Linked DNA regions of Homo sapiens: all the other regions are linked to region 1. The links come from fine-mapping of genetic effects on gene expression. A gene starts in region 1. Each other region holds a variant in brackets. All regions are shown on one strand. Distances are between the middles of the regions.

Region 1 (4,273 bases):
AGGTATAATTTGCTCATTATATGGAGTTGTTTTTCGTTTTTAATTATTTTAACTTTTTTGAGACAGGGTCTTGCTCTGTCACTGAGACTGGAGTGCAGTGGTGCGATTAGGGCTCATTGCAGCCTTCATCTCCTGGGTACAAACGATTCTCCCACCTCAGCCTCTCTAGTAGTTAGGACCACAAGCCTGTGCCACCACAAACGGCTAATTTTTTATTTTTTGTAGAGATGGGGTCTCACTATGTTGCCCTGTCTTGTATGAGGTTATTCATTGCAGCTTAGCATGTAATAGTAATGGCTTGGCAACAAGCGGAATATCCACCTGTAGGGGATTGGTTAAATAAATTAGGATGTTTGCATAAGTGGAATATTATTCTGCCTCTAGGAAGAAAAAGGTAGTTCATTATATACTGATATGGCAGGATGTCCAAGACATTTTTTTCTTTTTTCTTTTTTTGAGACAGGGTCTCACTCTCATCCAGGCTGGATGGCAAGCTCCCGGCTCACTGCAGCACCGACCTCCTAGGCTCAAGTGATCCTCCCACCTCAGTCTCCAGAGTAGGTGGGACTATACGCATGCACCACCACGCCCGGCTAATTTTTGTATTTTTCATAGGGATGGGGTTTTGCCATGTTGCCGGGGTTGGTCTCAAACTCCTGGTCTCAAGCGATCAGCCCCCCTCGGCCTCCTAAAGTGTTGGGATCATAGGCCTGAGCCACTGTGCCCAGCCTATCCAAGATATTTGAAGTGAGAAAAAAAGGACTGAACAGCGTATATAGTGTGTTACCTTTTGTGTAAAAAGAAGTATCCCTATATTTTAATGTATTACTTACAAATATGTAGGGAAAGATACATTATTAAATGCTAAGTGATTGCCTTCCAGGACTGAAACAGCTAACAGACAGAGATGGGAGAATCAATTATTTTTTATTCTGTCATGTTTTGAGTTTTCTATTAAGACATTTCCTAATTTATATAGCTCTATAGAGAAAATGCATATAAAGAGTGAAGCTTAAAAGAAATAGTAGATGTTTAGAGGTGAAAGAAGTGTTCAGAATGATATGCTGAAGAAAAACATTAGTGGGCCGGGTGCGGTGGCTCACGCCTGTAATCCCAACACTTTGGGAGGCCCAGGCGGGTGGATTGGTTGAGGTCAGGAGTTCGAGACCAGCCTGGCCAACATGGTGAAACCGTGTCTCTATTAAAAATACAAAAATTAGCCGTAGGTGGTGGCTCCCCCCTTTAATCCCAGCTACTCCGGAGGCTGAGGTACTAGAATCGCTTGAACTCGGGAGGCGGAGGTTGCAGTGAGCCGAGATCCCGCCATTGTACTCCAGCCTGGGCGACAACAGCGAGATCTATCTCAATAAATAAATGAAAAGGAAAACATTAGTGGCAGAAGATGTTTAAATGACGAAGAAAGAGGGACGGTTTGGCTTCTTAGGGTAAGTTTACTGGAAATACCGAACAGCCTCCTGCGTCCTTTGCCTTTTTGCTGGACCTCTTGAGGACTCGAGGCTTCGACACCTGGAAGCAAGTCTAGGAAGCTCCGGGTTGGGCCGGATCCCCACCAGAGGCGAGGGGCGGAAGGCCTGGGTTTGTCACCTGAGCCCCAGAACCGGCATATCCGGTTCGGCCCGGCCCCGCCCTTCGGAACCTCACTAGCGGGCTACGCGCAGGAGGGCGTGAGCTCCCGGATGTGCAGGCCCTGTACTGCCGTGGCAGCCCTGCCGGACGCGGCCGCAGTGCCCAGAGGCTCAGGCCTATACCGCTCGGGCGGGTCCTTTGCCTGGCCCGGGTCATCAGACCCCACAGCCGGGAACGTCACCACCCCGGGCGTCGCCTCCCGGCCCAGCCGGCCCACAGACCCCCGCCCCCTACTCCCCCAGCGGGGAGGGGCGCAGAGGCATCACGTGACGCCCCGCACCCGCCCGGTCTTGGTCACATGGTGGCACGGCCGCTGCGTCAGTCACAGCCCTGGCTGCAGGAGTCCAGCTGCCGTCGCCGCCGCCAGCGGACGGGGCGGGGATCCTGGTGCCAGGTCTTCGTTAACCCGCCCCCGCCGCCTCAGTCAGCTGTCCCAGCCCGGGCCCGACCGTCATGGAGCGGTGCGGGGCCTACGCCTGTTCCGTGTGAGGCGCATCGCTGCCGCCGCCGCCGACGCCGCCTTCGTTTGTCGAGGCCTCCGGAACCCCCGCCGCCTCCCGGAGCCCCTCGCCCTTGGCAGCCTGTCACCGCCCCCTGGGCGGGCTCGAATGCGCGTCCGGTGAAGGTGCAGGCCCGGCGCCGCCACTGCCGCAGCCAGGAGATGGTTCGGGCCTAGCGGAGCCGGGACTGGAGGTAAGAAGGGCCGACAGACTGACCCAGGGCCGGGCCGGGCCGCGGGGGTTGTGGCCGGGGCCGGGTGGGGGTGGGGGCCCGCAAGTTCTGCGGGGAGCCTCGGGGAGACCCTCCGGGCTGGGGCTGCTCAATCAGGCGTCACCCCTCCTCTCATCTGCGCGTCCCACCCCACCACCTTCCCGCAAAGATAAGAAAATAAAAAAAGCTAACCCAATCCTAACAAAAATTCCCAGAAATCCATCCGTTTAGTGTTTCTCCTTTCCTCTTTCTTTCCTCAGACGTTCCATCGGCTGATTTGTTACTTTTTCATATCCTCCTCAATTTCAAATTATGTCTAATTAAAGAGAAAATAGGCCCAGATTCTGGCTAACATTACCCAGCTAGTTCTCGCTTTCCTTCTCGCGATCCTGCGCACCTCTCCCACACCCCCACCCCCGCAAAAAAAAAAAAAAAAGAAGGAAAAATTTCCGCCTTCGACTTGCGAAGGGGATTGACTAAAAATGGGAACGTGGGGGTATAATACTCGAATACCCTCCCCTACAACTTCTGAATCGGTCTGTTACCTAGTTATCCCAGTAGCTTGTGCGTGGATATTGATGTTTAGGCCTTTCCTCCAGCTGCCTGTGCTTGGGGTTAATCTCGTAATTGACGTCAGTGCTTTGTTCCTTCTACTTTGCTGTTCCTTCCACTCTTTGAGGATGGATCATGGAGTACAGGAGTTTTGGGAGTAACCTTATTGCCTTTTCGTTTACAAACAGTATTATTTTCAGGAAGTGGAAGTACGAATCTGAAATGTTTGTATATGGAGTTCAAGGCGAAGAGTTCGATTTAGGGTTCTCGTAGTTTTGTCAGTTGTAATTCAGAATTATGCGGTTTCTTCCCTGCTGGCCACATGGAAATTTTATACTAAGGCCAGTCACTTTTCCATTGACCAGTGTTTTTCTTGATGGAATCTAAGCTATAGGTGTCTGTGAATAGACTGTAAATGTAACATAAAATGTGTGCTGTTTTTCGGGCTCAGATATGAAAAGCGCAAAGCTTCGTTTCTGTATTGATTCTGCACTTCATAAAGTGCTTTTTAAAACTTAACTGGTCTTTAACTTATCAAAATTGAAATATTTATGAGAACTTTCTTAATTTGGGATTTGATAAAGAGCCTTTGTGGTCTGTGAGTCTGCCTAGAATCATCTTTGGTCATACGTGCATAAAGAAGTGTTGGCAAGTGGCCACTTGGTTTTCAACAAAGCTGGCTTCTTTAAATTTCTCAGATTCGTTTTCCTTATTATCACTGCATCTTTCAGCTCCTAAATATAAGAAAAATTCCCAGTAAGTTATTTTAAGTTATCTTTCAGAGTTAACTTACTAAAAACCTGGAAGCAGTCAAATTTTTCTTTTTTTATTACCAGCAGTTTCATTCAATTTGCGGTGGTTTGCAGGCTGGTACTTTGATTTTTGTTAACTCTCTAGAAACAGTAGGCAAATTTTACTTTAAATAAAATTTTGCTTCAAGTGGGGACAAGATGGGGTGTCTGAAAAAAGAGCCCAGCTGTGTTAATTGGAACATGATCTACAGTTTGGGAGTGTAAGGTGAAGCTGTGTAATTAAGAATTCTTAAAGATTGAATATTTTTGTTCTGAGTCACTTTCTACTTGTCAGATTCTCACATTCAGGTTGATACATTCTCTTCTGTGTACTCTTGAGTTATTGTACCCTTTTTGTAGCAATATATTCTGCAGCCGGGCCTGGTGGTTCACGCCTGTAATCCTAGCACTTTAGCACTTTGAGAGGCCGAGGTGGGCGGATCACCTGAGGTCAGGAGTTCTAGACCATCCTGGCCAACATAATGAAACCCCGTCTCTACTAAAAATACAAGAATTAGCCAGGTGTGGTGGTGCACACCTGTAGTTCTAGCTACTTGAGAGGCTGAGGCATG
Region 2 (4,273 bases), 150 kb after region 1:
TCAGGTGATCCACTCACCTCAGCCTCCCAAAGTGCTGGGATTGCAGGCGTGAGCCACTGCGCCTGCCCTACCTTACCCATTCTTTAGACTCACCTCAAGGCCCACCCCTGTAAAGCCTTCTGCAAACTGCCTCAGGTGTATCGTGCTCTGCATTCCTCAATAATTTATTTCAACAAACATCTATTGGATATCTTTGGGTGCAAGGCTGTAAGCCAGATACTCTGGGTAGAAGATACAATCTGCCTTTGAAGAGCTTACTGCTTAGTGGAGAAGAGAAAAACATTAAGTACAATTAATTATGTGACATAGCCAAATGAAATGAATGCTCCAGGTACTTACCAGAGCACGTGGGGGATGGGGGGTGAAGGGGTGGGGAAGGATAGGGAAGAGGGAGGACTGGGACATCTCCAAGAGGCAGGCTATGAGAACAGGATAGGTGAAAGCTTGAAAGTGGGACTGTGGGCCGGGTGTGGTGGCTCACACCTGTAATCCCAGTACTTTGGGAGGCGGAGGTGGGCAGATCATGAGGTCAGGAGATTGAGACCATCCTGGCTAACATGGTGAAACCCTGTCTCTACTAAAAATACAAAAAAATTAGCCGGGCATGGTGGCGGGCACCTGTAGCCCCAGCTACTTGGGAGGCTGAGGCAGGAGAATGGTGTGAACCCGGGAGGCAGAACTTGCAGTGAGTCAAGATAGTGCCACTGCACTCCAGCCTGGGCAACAAAAAAAGAAAGTGGGACTATGAAGGCTGAATTCAGGGTAAAGAGTGTCCAGTGTGTTTGAAGTTCAGGGTGTGTGCCAGGGATATGGAAAAATATAATGTTGGAAAAGTCATCTGGGGTGATGGGTGAAGGGCCTTAAATGGTAGTTTGGACTTTGCCCTGTTTGCAGTAGAATGTCATTGAGAGCTTGCTTTCTTCTTTTTAAAAAGTGGCTTTATTTTCTGATTATAGAATTAATGTTTTTTCCAATTCTCAATAGTTTCTAAAATATAAAAAGAATATGTCACATGTTAGAGAGCCACTTGATATTTTTTAGTTTATGCTGTGAGGAGTTTTTCTCTGTACATCCATAGATATATACACAACCATCTACACCATTTGGTACACATGGGATTAGACCGCGTGTTGCTAAGAACCCATGTTACCTTAGTCAAGACTGGTGTGGCGAATGGGCGGAAGAGGGGACCCTGGGGAGGTAGTGGCAGGGTCCAGTGGAAGACGGTAGGGCTTATCAAGCTCGGACAGTGGATGGGTGCCAAAGATACTTCAGAAACAGAACTTGCATTATATTGTCTTGTTTTCACTTTTAAAGTTATATTCCCTTTGTTTTAATTTTCATTTCAATAGCTACTTTTTATATTTTATTTTCCTACCTTTTTCTGGGCCAATTGTTGTGTTCCTTGAAAAGTCATTTCCATGATCTCATAGGTAGTGAAGCTTCAACTTGGACTTTTGTTACCATCTCTTGTCTCCAAGAAGAGAGATGAGGGAGAGCACTCTCTGTTAAAGATCATTATTGATTTATGTGGTTTGAACTAATTTTGACTATGATTGTAACCCCCCAATGGATTAATTTACCTTGCCCACTGCCTAGACAGAGCCGATTTATCAAGACAGGGGAATTGCAATGGAGAAAGAGTAATTCACACAGAGCTGGCTGTGCAAGAAGACCAGAGTTTTATTATTACTCAAATCAGTCTCCCTGAGAATTTAGGGACTGGAGTTTTTAAGGATAATTTGGTGGGTAGGGGGGCCAGTGAATTGGGGGTTCTGAT[C/T]GGTCAGGTCAGAGATGAAATCACAGGGAGTTGAAGCTGTCCTCTTGCATTGAGTCAGCTCCTGGGTGGGGGCTACAAGACCAGATGAGCCAGTTTACGAGCCTGGGTGGTGCCAGCTGATGCATCAAGTACAGGGTCTGCAAAATATCTCAAGAACTGATCTTAGGCTTCACAATAGTGACGTTATCCCCAGGGGCAATTTGGGGAGGTTTAGAATCTTGCAGCCTCCAGCTGCCTGACTTCTAAACCATAATCTAATCTTTTGGCTAATTTGTTAATTCTACAAAGGCAGTCTAGTTCATTTTGGGAAAGGGCTGTTACCATCTTTGTTTCAAACTATAAACTAAGTTTCTCCCAAAGTTAATTTGGCCTATGCTCAGGAATGAACAAGGACAACTTGGAGGTTAGAAGCAAGATGGAGTTAGTAAGATCAGATCTCTTTCACTGTCTCAGTTATAATTTTGCAATGGTGGTTTCATGATCGCTAAGAGTAGACAAGGATTAAATACTGATTGAACAGGAATTGCTAGTACAAGCCGTTTATTGACAGTGCTTAACAGGCTTCAGGCTCTGAGCTACATAAGGAAACTTGGCCAAGGTCACAGTTAACAATTGGCTGAGCTCAAACTGGAACCCCAGGCTACCTGCCTATGCTCATTTACCATGCAAAGTTAGGTCACTGATGATTTAAAATTGATGTTCTGAATGTTTAATAAATAAAGTAGGGAAAAACTCCTCACAAATACCTTACTTAAACTTTTATTTATGCTTGTGCTTCTGAACATACTCTGCTTTAATATTTTAAGTGATAAGTTTATAGTTTGAGCAAACATTACAGTGAGGATGCTAATGACATCCAGTTCCCCAGGCTGCTTTTCAGTTTTGATGCCCTGTTGCCAGTGAGGCCAGAGAATCAATTCTTCCAGTGACCCAGCAGTTTGCCCGCAACATTAGGAAAATCAAATATAAAATGTATATTTATAGCAAGGATAAAATTCCATGATGTGTCTTGAACATGGAGAATGAAATAGGAAGGCTATTTGTTCTTATCTCAGTATCTTAAATATGAAGCAGATCAGGGTAGAGGCCCTCTGTAATTTTTAAAGCTACAATATTTAAATATAAAATAAAATAATTTCATAATCTTATGCTATGTTACATTACATTTATATTATTATTTTTGAGACAAAGTCTCGCTCTTGTCCCCTAGGCTGGAGTGCGATGGCACGATCTTGGCTCACTGCAACCTCTGCTTCCTGGGTTCAAGTGATTCTCCTGCTTCAGCCTCCTGAGTAGCTGGGATTACAGATGCCTGCCAATGGTATTTTTGTGTTTTTAGTAGAGACAGGGTTTCACCATGTTGTTCAGGCTGGTCTCAAACTCCTGACCTCAGGTGATCTGCCCACCTCGGCCTCCCAAAGTGCTGGGATTATAGGCGTGAGCCATCACGCCTGGTCTGTATTCTGTTCTGTTCTATTCCTTATTCCAATCCACACTACCCTCTGAACCCCATGCCTAGGCCCCACCAAGAGCTGTAGCGGATGCTTAATGTTTGTAAATGTCTTCTCCCCTACCATGGCAGTGCAAATCAGCTCCTTCCATTGCGTTTATCCAACGCAGCCTGCCACCTCTGCCCCCTGGTGTCTCACCAATACATCTCATCTGTAAAGAAGAGTTCCTCCGGTCCCAGGAGGCAGGAGCTCCAGGGACTTGAGGGGGATGGGCTGCCCAGCAGTGGCTGTAAAGGGACTTTGCCCAGATATCAAGCTTTTGCGGTCAACTTCCGGAACAAATCGTGCTTTGTTCTTGCTTCCAGCCCAGGGGAAGCAAAGGGGACCTCTCTCATGCCTGCAGCTTGTTAAGCCCACTTCTCTCTAAGGTCAAAAGAACTTTATTTCTAAATCTGAGTGAAAGTGTCAGCTCACGTGTTTCTGCTGTAGACTGAGTTTTTGACTCTGCAGTTCATTTTTCAGGCTGCTGCTTCTCTGATTGCTCAGACTATTGCTTGGTTGCTAAGTAGGGAGCCACAGACCTGGTCCACGGAGACTTGGAAAGCTGTGTCCTGGCTTCATGAATCTCCAGCAGTTGGTGCCCTTTGCTACCCATCTTTAATCATCCCTTTCAGTCCCTTGCCTTCTCAGGTATGAGGTGTTTTTTGTTTGTGGTTTTTTTGAGACGGAGTCTCGCTCTGTTGCCAGGCCGGAGTGCAGTGGCACAGTCTCGGCTCACTGCAACTTCTGCCTCCCGGGTTCAAGGGATTCTCCTGCCTCAGCCTCCGAGTAGTTAGGACTACAGGCGTGTACTACCATGCCCGGCTAATTTTTTGTATTTTAGTAGAGACGGGGTTTCACCATGTTGGACAGGATGGTCTTGAACTCCTGACCTCGTGATCCGCCTGCCTCGGCCTCCCAAAGTGCTGGGATTATAGGCGTGAGCCACCGTGCCCGGCCTGAGTTTTTATTTAAAAGAGTATACCTGCTCCCCTACCCCTGG
Region 3 (4,174 bases), 22 kb before region 1:
TCTTGCCTCAGCCCCCCGAGTAGCTGGGACTACAGGCACCCGCCACCACGCCCGGCTAATTTTTTGTATTTTTTAGTAGAGACGGGGTTTCACCGTGTTAGCCAGGATGGTCTCGATTTCCTGACCTCGTGATCCGCCCACCTTGGCCTCCCAAAGTGCTGGGATTACAGGCATGAGCCACAGCGCCCAGCCAAGAAAATCTTATTTATGATGTATGCAGTTCACTTACCTTGCCTCAACAGAAGAAAAGTTAAATATTACGTTTTTTTCTTTTAGGAAATATCATTTGTGGTAAGCGTCAACCTCATTTTATTTGTCCTTATTCCTGTGGAAGCAGTACATGTTTTCTTCTTGAATGCTCATTAGGACTTCTTAAAAAACATGAAAGTAATTTGGAAGTAAGTTTATCCAATAAAGCAGTATTTCTACACTTTTAGATTTGATAAATATTTTTATTACTAAAGAATCCCCTAGACATTTTCTTTTTTTATTTCATGCATAGATTTAAGCATCTTGATTCTTAGTAATTTAAAAATGGGAAGAATGAAAAAGCATAACTAGATTTTTCTATCTTCTGTGGTTCCCCCCCACAAAATACCATTTATTGTTCTCCCCCAAGTATAAAAGCAATACATGCAAAAAAATATCTGAGAGAAACCAAAAAGTAAAAGGAAGGCCAAAAATCACCTGGTATCTACTCCCAGAAATAATCAATTTTAACATTTCGGGATATGTCTTTCCAGGCTTCTTTGGGTGTATATTTCTCACCCTCACCCATGAGATCAGAATATGTATGCAGTTCTTTCTTTAACCCTTTTTTTTCCCGTGTACTGTGAACATTTAAAAAATACTTTTAAATATTCTTTGGAAACTTAGCTTTTAGTAGCTACTTGGTTGTATCATAATTTATTAACTACTGTTTCACTGGTAAACATTGACTTGCCTCCCATGACTTGCCACTATAATTAAAACCGTGAGTACTGGCGGGGCGCGGAGGCTCATGCCTGTAATCCCAGCACTTTGGAAGGCCGAGGCGGGCGGATCATGAGGTCAGGAGATTGAGACCATCCTGGCTAACACGGTGAAACCCTGTCTCTACTAAAAATACAAAAAATTAGCCGGGCGCGGTGGCGGGCGCCTGTAGTCCCAGCTACTCGGGAGGCTGAGGCAGGAGAATGGCGTGAACCCAGGAGGAGGAGCTTGCAGTGAGCCAAGATTGCGCCACTGCACTCCGGCCTGGGCGAAAGAGCAAGACTCCGTCTCAAAAAAAAACAAAAACAAAAACAAAAAACTGTGACTACTATCTATCTCCATTAAAAAAAAAAGAAAGAGTACTAACAAGGATAAAAAAAGTCATTTTGTATGATAATGTGGCAATTCATAATTTTTGTATCATTCATATATTTTGCATTATTCACATTTCACATTCATATTTTCATTTATATTCATATTTCATATTCATATTATTTTTGTATTATTACTATTTCATAATTTTGTATGGTAATGTGACAATTCATATATTAGGATATAATAATCCTAAACATGAATACACCTAATAACAGAGCTTGAAAGCATAAAGCAAAACTGATAGAAATAAAATGAGAAATAGACAAATTCACAATTATAGTGAGAGATCTCAATACTCATACTCAATAACTAATAGAACAATAGACAAAAAAAATCAGTGAAGACACAGCAGATTTGAACAACACAATAAACCCACTTGACATAATTGCCACTTACAGAACTACTCCACCCAACAATAGCAGAATATACATTCTTTTTAAAGTGTACCCAGAATATTTAGTAATGTATATT[T/C]ACCAAGGTAGTCCACATTCTATGCTATAAAACAAGTCTCAATAAATATGAAAATGTTCAAGTCATACAAGATATATTCTTCGACCATGGTGGAATTAAATTAGAAATCAATAACAGAAACATCTCTGGAAAGTCCCCCACTATATGGAACTAAACAAGACACTTCTTTTTTTTTTTTGAGATGGGGTCTTGCTCTGTCACCAGGCTGGAGTGCAATGGCGCAATCTTGGTTCACTGCAACCTCTGCCTCCTGGGTTCAAGCGATTCCCCTGCCTCAGCCTCCTGAGTAGCTAGGACTACAGGTGTTCGCCACCACACCTGGCTAATTTTTTTGTATTTTAGTGGAGATGAGGTTTCACCATGTTGGACAGGACGGTCTCGATTTCCTGACCTCGTGATCCACCTGCCTTGGCCTCCCAAAGTGCTGGGATTACAGGCGTGAGCCACTGTGCCCGGCCACAAGATGCTTCCATATAATCCATGCTCAAAGAGGAAATCAAAAGGAAAATTAGAAGACATTTTAACTGAATGAAGATGAAAACAAAACATATTAATATTTGCGAAATGCTGCTGAAGTAATACGTAGGGGAAATTTATATTAGGGGAAAAGTCTCAAATCAATGACTTCAGCTTTCATCTTAAGAAACTAGGAAAACAAGAGCAAAAAATCCCAAAATAAGCAGAAGAAAGAAATATAAGAAAGGAAAGAAAAATAAAGATCAGAGCAGAAATCAATGTAATAGAAAATGAAAAAACAATACATTCAGTGAATCCAAAAGATGGTTCTATGAGAAGATTAATAAAATTGATAAACCTCTAACCAGACTGCCCAGGATAAAAAAGAGGACACAAATTACCAACATTAGGAATGAGAGAGGTGCTATTACAACACATTCCCAGATATTAAAAGAACACTAAGAGTACAGTATGAACAACTTTACTCATTTAATAAATTAGATAGGCAGAGTGCTGTGGCTTACACCTATAATCCCAGCACTTTGGAAGGCTGAGGCTGGAGAATTGCTTTAGGCCAGCAATTGGAGACTAGCCTGCACAACATAGTGAGACCCTTGTCTCTAGAAAAAAATTTTTTTAAATTAGCCGGGCTTAGTGGTGCATAGTCCCAGCTACTTGGGAGGCTGAGGTGGGAGGATTGCTTGAGCCAAGGAGTCTGAGGCTGAAGTGAACTGTGTTTGCACCACTGCACTCCAGCCTGAACAACAGAGCAAGACCCTGTCTCTTTAAAAATTAAATAAATAAATTAGATGAATGGACAAATTCCTTGAAAGACAAACTACCAAGGTTCACTTAAGAATAAACAGATGGGGGTGGGCGCCATGGCTCACGCATATAATCCCGGCACTTTGGGAGGCTGAGATTTTGCCCAGTCTGGGCAAAAAGGTGAAAGAAACCCCATCTCTACAAAAAATGCAAAAATTAGCCAGATATGGTGGCGCATGCCTGTAGTCCCAGCTACTCTGGAGGCTGAGGTGGGAGGATTCCTTGAGCCCAGGAGGTTAAAGTGGCAGTGAGTGGAGATTGTGCCACTGCACACCAGCCTGGGTGACAGCGTGAGACTCTGTCTTAAAAAACGTCCCTCTCCCGCTCCCTCTTCCCCTCCCCCTCTCCCCCCCCCCCCCACGGTCTCCCTCTCCCTCTCTTTCCACGGTCTCCCTCTGATGCTGAGCCGAAGCTGGACTGTACTGCTGCCATCTCGGCTCACTGCACCCTCCCTGCCTGATTCTCCTGCCTCAGCCTGCCCAGTGCCTGCGATTGCAGGCGCGCGCCGCCACGCCTGACTGGTTTTCGTATTTTTTTGGTGGAGATGGAGTTTTGCTGTGTTGGCCGGGCTGGTCTCCAGCTCCTAACCGCGAGTGGTCCGCCAGCCTCGGCCTCCCGAGGTGCCGGGATTGCAGACAGAGTCTCGTTCACTCAGTGCTCAATGGTGCCCAGGCTGGAGTGCAGTGGCGTGATCTCGGCTCGCTACAACCTCCACCTCCCAGCCGCCTGCCTTGGCCTCCCAAAGTGCCGAGATTGCAGCCTCTGCCCGGCTGCCACCCCATCTGGGAAGTGAGGAGCGTCTCTGCCTGGCCGCCCATCGTCTGGGATGTGAGGAGCCCCTCTGCCTGGCTGCCCAGTCTGGAAAGTGAGGAGCGTCTCTGCCCGCCCGCCATCCCATCTAGGAAGTGAGGAGCGCCTCTTCCCGGCCGCCATCCCATCTAGGAAGTGAGGAGCGTCTCTGCCCGGCCGCCCATTGTCTGAGATGTGGAGAGCGCCTCTGCCCCGCCGCCCCGTCTGGGATGTGAGGAGCGCCTCTGCCTGGCTGCGACCCCGTCTGGGAGGTGAGGAGCGCCTC

Alleles and levels. Positions count from the first base shown, and alleles are read on the strand shown. Sizes are in standard deviations (SD) of each study's normalised expression.
As copies of T replace C in region 2, the expression in spleen of the gene that starts at base 1,965 in region 1 goes down (moderate effect, 0.48 SD a copy in GTEx).
For the expression in regulatory T cells of the gene that starts at base 1,965 in region 1, allele T in region 3 goes with a lower level than allele C (large effect, 1.2 SD a copy in Schmiedel 2018).

Evidence for each region. PIP is the estimated chance that this variant, and not a neighbour inherited with it, causes the effect. A credible set is the group of variants that fine-mapping cannot tell apart.
Region 2: its variant is the best candidate, but not a certain one, in a credible set for the expression of AFF4 in spleen (GTEx, PIP 0.76).
Region 3: its variant is the best candidate, but not a certain one, in a credible set for the expression of AFF4 in regulatory T cells (Schmiedel 2018, PIP 0.77).

Annotation. Positions count from the first base shown.
Region 1 is chr5:132,961,326-132,965,598 of GRCh38, reverse strand. AFF4 (ALF transcription elongation factor 4) reads left to right here and starts at 1,965. Exons shown (of 21, transcript NM_014423.4): 1 at 1,965-2,340. AFF4-DT (AFF4 divergent transcript) reads right to left here and starts at 1,787. Exons shown (of 2, transcript NR_186175.1): 1 at 1,465-1,787; 2 at 909-1,358. RefSeq lists a silencer at 1,671-2,510.
Region 2 is chr5:132,806,714-132,810,986 of GRCh38, reverse strand. No RefSeq gene overlaps it. Among named protein-coding and RNA genes, the nearest start is that of SOWAHA, 4.5 kb to the left of the region's middle. RefSeq lists a silencer at 2,216-2,510. The variant C/T (reference allele first, on the strand shown) is at 1,781.
Region 3 is chr5:132,983,229-132,987,402 of GRCh38, reverse strand. It overlaps the pseudogene LOC402230. Among named protein-coding and RNA genes, the nearest start is that of AFF4-DT, 22 kb to the right of the region's middle. The variant T/C (reference allele first, on the strand shown) is at 1,819.